Linked DNA regions of Homo sapiens: region 2 is linked to region 1. Evidence: fine-mapped expression QTL. Tissue or cell type: whole blood. Region 1 holds a variant in brackets; the other region holds the start of a gene. All regions are shown on one strand. Distances are from middle to middle.

Region 1 (2,758 bases):
GTAACGCCCCCAGCTAGGAACTCAGGGCACAGAGATAAACAAGACATTGCCTAGGAGACACACCCTGAAAGAAACTGTAATACAAGGTGCCAAGGTGATACTAGCAAGAGGGGTGTGCAAGGACGCCTAGGAGCCCAGAGGGCACAGGGGATTGGTTCTGCTTGGGGTGCGCCTGGCAGATAGGGAAGAGGAGGGGTGTCCAGGCAAAAAATTCAGCACAAATAAGCCACGGAGATGGGAGAGTATAGGGTATGCAGGTGGACCAGGATAAAATCCAGGGGGGGCCAGCATAGAGTGTGTAGGTAGAATAAGTAAATCTTTTGAAAAGACATTTGGAAACAGAAATGGAGGGGCCCAGGGTCACAACTTCTCTTAAATCAAATAGTTGCTCAAGACCCACATGTTGGCTGGGCGCGGTGGCTCACGCCTGTAATCCCAGCACTTTGGGAGGCCGAGGCGGGTGGATCACGAAGTCAGGAGATCGAGACCATCCTGGCTAGCACGGTGAAACCCCGTCTCTACTAAAAATACAAAAAATTAGCCGGGCACGGTGGCGGGCGCCTGTAGTCCCAGCTACTCTGGAGACTGAGGCAGGAGAATGGCGTGAACCCGGGAGGCGGAGCTTGCAGTGAGCGGAGATCCCGCCACTGTACTCCAGCCTGGGCGACAGAGCGAGACTCCGTCTCAAAAAAAAAAAAAAAAGACCCACATGTTAAAGCTGTCTTTTCCACCACTTCCGTGATCCTAGAACTATGTTCAGTTTTTTGGCACAGGTGTGTTGATTAGTCATATTATGATAATATTTTTCTTTAAATCCACATATTTAAAAAATATTTTGAAACTTTAAAGCATATTTAATAATAATATGTGTAATATTGCAGTTTGGATATGCTAGCTCAATGTTTTGTAAAGCATAAATAATAAATGCATAACAATTAAAATAATAAATATTTCCCTGTGTACCACATCAAATCACCTTGAGTCCCATCAGTGGTATTTGTATTCCTTGATCAAAAAAAAATTATACCGGGAATGGTGGTTCACACCTGTAATCTCAGCATTTTGGGAGAGCAAGGCAGGAGAATCACTTGGGACCACATGTTCAAGACCAACATAGCGAGACCCCATCTCAAAAAAGAAAAAAAAATTCTACGACAACTCTAGGACAATATAGATGGTAAAAAACAAAAATTCATTATTTTTTTCCATCACTTATGTATTATATTTAGTGATTGAGCAAAATCTTTTCAATCTAAACAGCTGGTTTGTATAACTAGCAGATAAAGACCATTGTATCTTTCTGCCTTTGGGCTGAGACTCTCTTTTCATCTTATTTTGTCCAATTTCTTTAGTGCTGAAAAA[A/G]ATGCATTGTCCATACTAATGACAACCCACTGTGTACCTCCTCCCATGCTCTCCAGCGGTGCAGCTTGTGGTGGTCAGTTGCCTGTTTTTCCTCGCTGTGAACGCTTTTAATTAAAAGGAAGGTAATTTGCAATATTAAGCATGTCTTCTCTGAATTAATCCTCGAAACAACTCTAAAACAGTAGTAGATAAAGCCCTATTTTACAGATAAAGAAAGGGGGCTCAGATAGATCCAAGTGACTGCCCCTCTTAGTGCTGTGTGACCAGCCAGAGATGGGTTTGAATTTAGAATTATTTGATTTGAAGCCTGGGACTCTCTTTGGCTTCTAATGGAGTGCATTCACTTGGGTGGACTTTTTTCCCCATCCATTTAACAGATATTTTCAGAATGCCAGTTATGTAGAAGGTACTCTGCTGTATGATGGGAGATCCAGAGATAAGTATAAATGGTATAAGCTGTACTATCAAGATGCTTATAGCTGCCAGGCACAGTGGCTCATGCCTGTAATCCTACTATTTTGGGAAACTGAGGCAGGCACATCACTTGAGGTCAGGAGTTTGAGACCAGCCTGTCCAACATGGTGAAACTTTGTCTCTACTAAAAATACAAATATTAGCCGGGTGTGGTGGTGTGCACCTGTAATATCAGCTACTCAGGAGGCTAAGGCAGGAGAATCGCTTGAACCTGGGAGGCAGAGGTTGCAGTGAGCCGAGATCGCGCCACTCACTCCAGCCTGGGCAATAGAGTGAGACTCCATCTCAAAAATAAAATAAAATAAATAAATAAATATACAAAAATTAGCTGGACATGGTCGCATGCACCTGTAGTTCCAGCTACTAAGGGGATTGAGAGAGGAGGATCACCCGAGCCTTGGGAGATCGAGACTGCAGTGAGCTGTGATCACACCACTGCACTCCAACCTGGGTGACAGAGTGAGATATTGTCTCAAAAATAAATAAATAAAAGGCCAGGGGTGCTGGCACATGCCTGTTATCCCAGCACTTTGGGAGGCTGAGGTGGGCGGAACACCTGAGGTCAGGAGTTTGAGACTAGTCTGACCAACACAGTGAAACCCCGTCTCTCTGAAATACAAAAAATTAGCTGGGCGTGGTGGTGCATGCCTGTAATCTCAGCTACTTAGGAGGCTGAGGCAGGAGAATCACTTGAACCAGGGAAGTGGAGAGGTTGCAGTGAGCTGAGACCTCAACATTGTACTTCAGCCTGTGCAACAAAAGTGAAACTCCTCTCAAAAAAAAAAAAAAAAGAAGAAGAAAGAAAAGAAAAAGAAAAAAGGAAAAAAGGCTGGGTGCAGCGGCTCATGCCTGTAATCCCAGCACTTTGGGAGGCTGAGGCAGGCAGATCACTTGAGGTCAGGGGTTTGACACCAGCCTGACC
Region 2 (2,758 bases), 22 kb before region 1:
TGTTGCCACCCGACATACTGACGTGCTGGCGGGCCACGCGCGACTGCACCGCCCAGACATGGGGACTGGTCAGGCAGGAAGCACCCGGGAACCCAGGGCGCCAGCGCTGCAATCTCGGCCCACTCCCGGGTCGAAGAAGAGGTGATGCGTCTGTATTGCGGGTGTTATGTCCTGTCTGCCCAATTGCGTGTGAGCGAGCGCCGCGGCTGGTCCCTCCCCCTCCAGGTCCCGTGGACGTCCCCGGAATTGGCACACCGAGGCTCTCTCGGTGCGCTCTCGCCACGGGGCCGCCTACGCGCTAAACTCACTCTGGCCCAGCCAGTGTCTGGGGACGCGGCCACCTCCCGCCCGGTGGCCCGAGAGCGCCCGCCCTACCGACAGCGCGCCCGGGGACTGGTGAAGACCCGGCTTGCGCCCCAGGCGGCTCCGCAGTGCTCGCACCACGGGCATACACAGCTGAGCCAAGGACACGGAAGCTATCCCGGGAAGGTTGCGGAGTCCGCGCGGTGGCCGCTCCTTACCCTCGTTCAGTGGCTCTTGGTGACCCCAAGGCTCCGCCCGCCCCCACCACACCCACGAAAACCCACCGGGCGTTCCCGGCGGCCCGGAGCGATACTCACGTTATTCGGGGCACCTGCTTGACGCAGTGTCTTCTCCCTTCCCGCCGGGCCAGACGCGAACGTGGAGAAAGATGGGAGCAGCGCGTCGCTGACAGCCATGTCAGACTCGCCAGGTGGCTGCCTGCGAGCAAGGCAGGGAGCGGAGACAGGAGAGTCAGGGGCGGCTTTCGGCCGTCGTTCCGGCGCGTCCCACCGGTCCTCACCCCTCCCTGCTCCCAGCGCCGCGCGCCTCACCTACCTCATTAATGTGGGGGCCCAGAAGGTCCTCGGCAGCCCGAAGCAGCTGGGGCACCTGAACCCCAAAGTCAACGAAGAGAAGAAACGAAGCCAAAACCCAAAACCCCAAATTGGCCGAGATCCTTCTTCTTTGGATTAAATATAACTTGGAAGCGTCTTTTTTAAAAAGTTCCTTTGTATACAAAAGTTCTTAGAAAAGTTGTAAACGCAAAAATAGACAATCAGCAAGGCGAGTAAGTAGGTCCGGTGGCCGGGCTGCGCTCTCTTCCACTCAGCAGCGTCCCCCACCACTGTCGCGGTCGCCTCGAGTGCTGCCGTGGGCGCAGGGGCTGTGGCCGGGGCGGTGGGCGGGCGGTGCCGCCAGGTGAGACTGGCTGCCGTGGCGCGGAGCTGCGAACTGGTCGGCGGCGCAAGGCGCGGACTCCGGTGAGTTGTGTGGAGCGCGCGCGGCCATGGGCGCGGGCCACGGGCGGGTGGGAGGGTGGGGGGCCAGAGGGGCGGGGGAGGGTCACTCGGCGGCTCCCGGTGCCGCCGCCGCCCGCCACCGCCTCTGCTCCCCGCGCGCCCGCAGACACGTTCGTTCTCTCTGGTCGGGAAACTGCCGGCCGCCGGCGCGCGTTCCTTACTTATAACTTCCTTCGCTACAGCCTTTTCCTCCGCCTTCTCCCATGCCCCGCCCCTCCCTTTCTTCTCTCCGCCCCCCCCGAGGCTCCCTTCCATCGTTGCTATGGCAGCTAAATCAACAAACTCGGCGCACGTGGGGGCGGGGGAGGGGAAGGAGGGGCGCGGGCGGGGCTGGGCCGGGCCGTGACGCCAGCCAGGCAGCTGGCGGGCTGGAGCCGAGCTGACGCCGGCGGCAGTGGTGTCGGCGGCGGCGGCGGCGTCCGCCCCAGCGCGGGGCGCGAGGAACCGGGCGCAGGTTCGGTCGCTGCGCGACCAGGGCCGTACTCACCGCCATTGTCGGCTCCCTGGGTTCGAAGCCCGCGAAGACTGGTGGGGTCAGCGGGCGGCACGGTCACGCGTCCGCACCCCTGCTAGCATACGCGCTTGCCGCGCTGTCTGCGCGCTGGAGAAGAGCGCGATTATCCGCGTGACTCATCCAGCCCTCCATCTCCCCCTCCCTCTCTGCGCTCGCAGGAGTCCGCTCTCGTCGCTCAGCGCCAGTGCCGGTGGCGGTGCCGGCGCTCGGCCTGACCTCGCACGGTTCCTCGCGGGCCCTTCTGCTGAGGGGTGGGGGGCGCTAGGGGTGTGGAGAGGAGGCAGTGCCCAGCACTGTGCAGCGTGAACTGGGAGCCTCAAGAGAAGGCCAGAGGAGTGTTCCGCCGGGAACAGGCGGAAAGAGGCACGAATGGGGAGTTATGGTTTTGATACTTTAAATAGCGAGAAAGGGAGTGAAAGGGCTCAAGATTTACTCAGAGGCATAAGGGAGAGAAGAGGGACTGTGAGGCGCGGAGACAGTTTTCAACCAGCCATCTCGAAGCCCTTTCCTTTTTTTTTCTTTCTTTTTTTTTTTTTTGTGAGACAGAGTCTCGCTGTGTCGCCCAAGCTGGAATGCAGTGGCACGATCTCAGCTCAGTGCAACCTCCGCCTCCTGCGTCCAAGCGATTCTCCTGCGTCAGCCTCCCGAGTAGCGGGGATTACAGGCGTGCGCCACGACGCCGGCTAATTTTTGTATTTTTCGTGGAGACGGGGTTTCACCATGTTGGCCAGGCAGGTCTCGAACACCTGACCTCAAGTGATCAGCCTGCCTCGGCCTCCCGAAGTGCTGGGATTACAGGCGTGAGCCACTGCCTGTAATATTTGATGACTAAATTGCACTGTAGAATAATAATAATAATAGAAGACACCCATTAAAGAAGAATTAAACACTCACTGATGACTTTTCAAGCCACGCACTCTCC

What was found. PIP is the estimated chance that this variant, and not a neighbour inherited with it, causes the effect.
Region 2: it holds the start of KLF4, and the variant in region 1 is fine-mapped to the expression of KLF4 in whole blood (TOPMed, PIP 0.94).

Annotation. Positions count from the first base shown.
Region 1 is chr9:107,509,939-107,512,696 of GRCh38, forward strand. The region is part of intron 1 of LOC105376206 (a long non-coding RNA gene); the gene reads left to right. Among named protein-coding and RNA genes, the nearest start is that of KLF4, 22 kb to the left of the region's middle. The variant A/G (reference allele first, on the strand shown) is at 1,363.
Region 2 is chr9:107,488,310-107,491,067 of GRCh38, forward strand. It overlaps KLF4 (KLF transcription factor 4), which reads right to left and starts at 1,460. Exons shown (of 5, transcript NM_004235.6): 1 at 859-1,460; 2 at 621-741. The coding sequence starts at 863. RefSeq lists silencers at 272-321, 973-1,172, 1,532-1,741.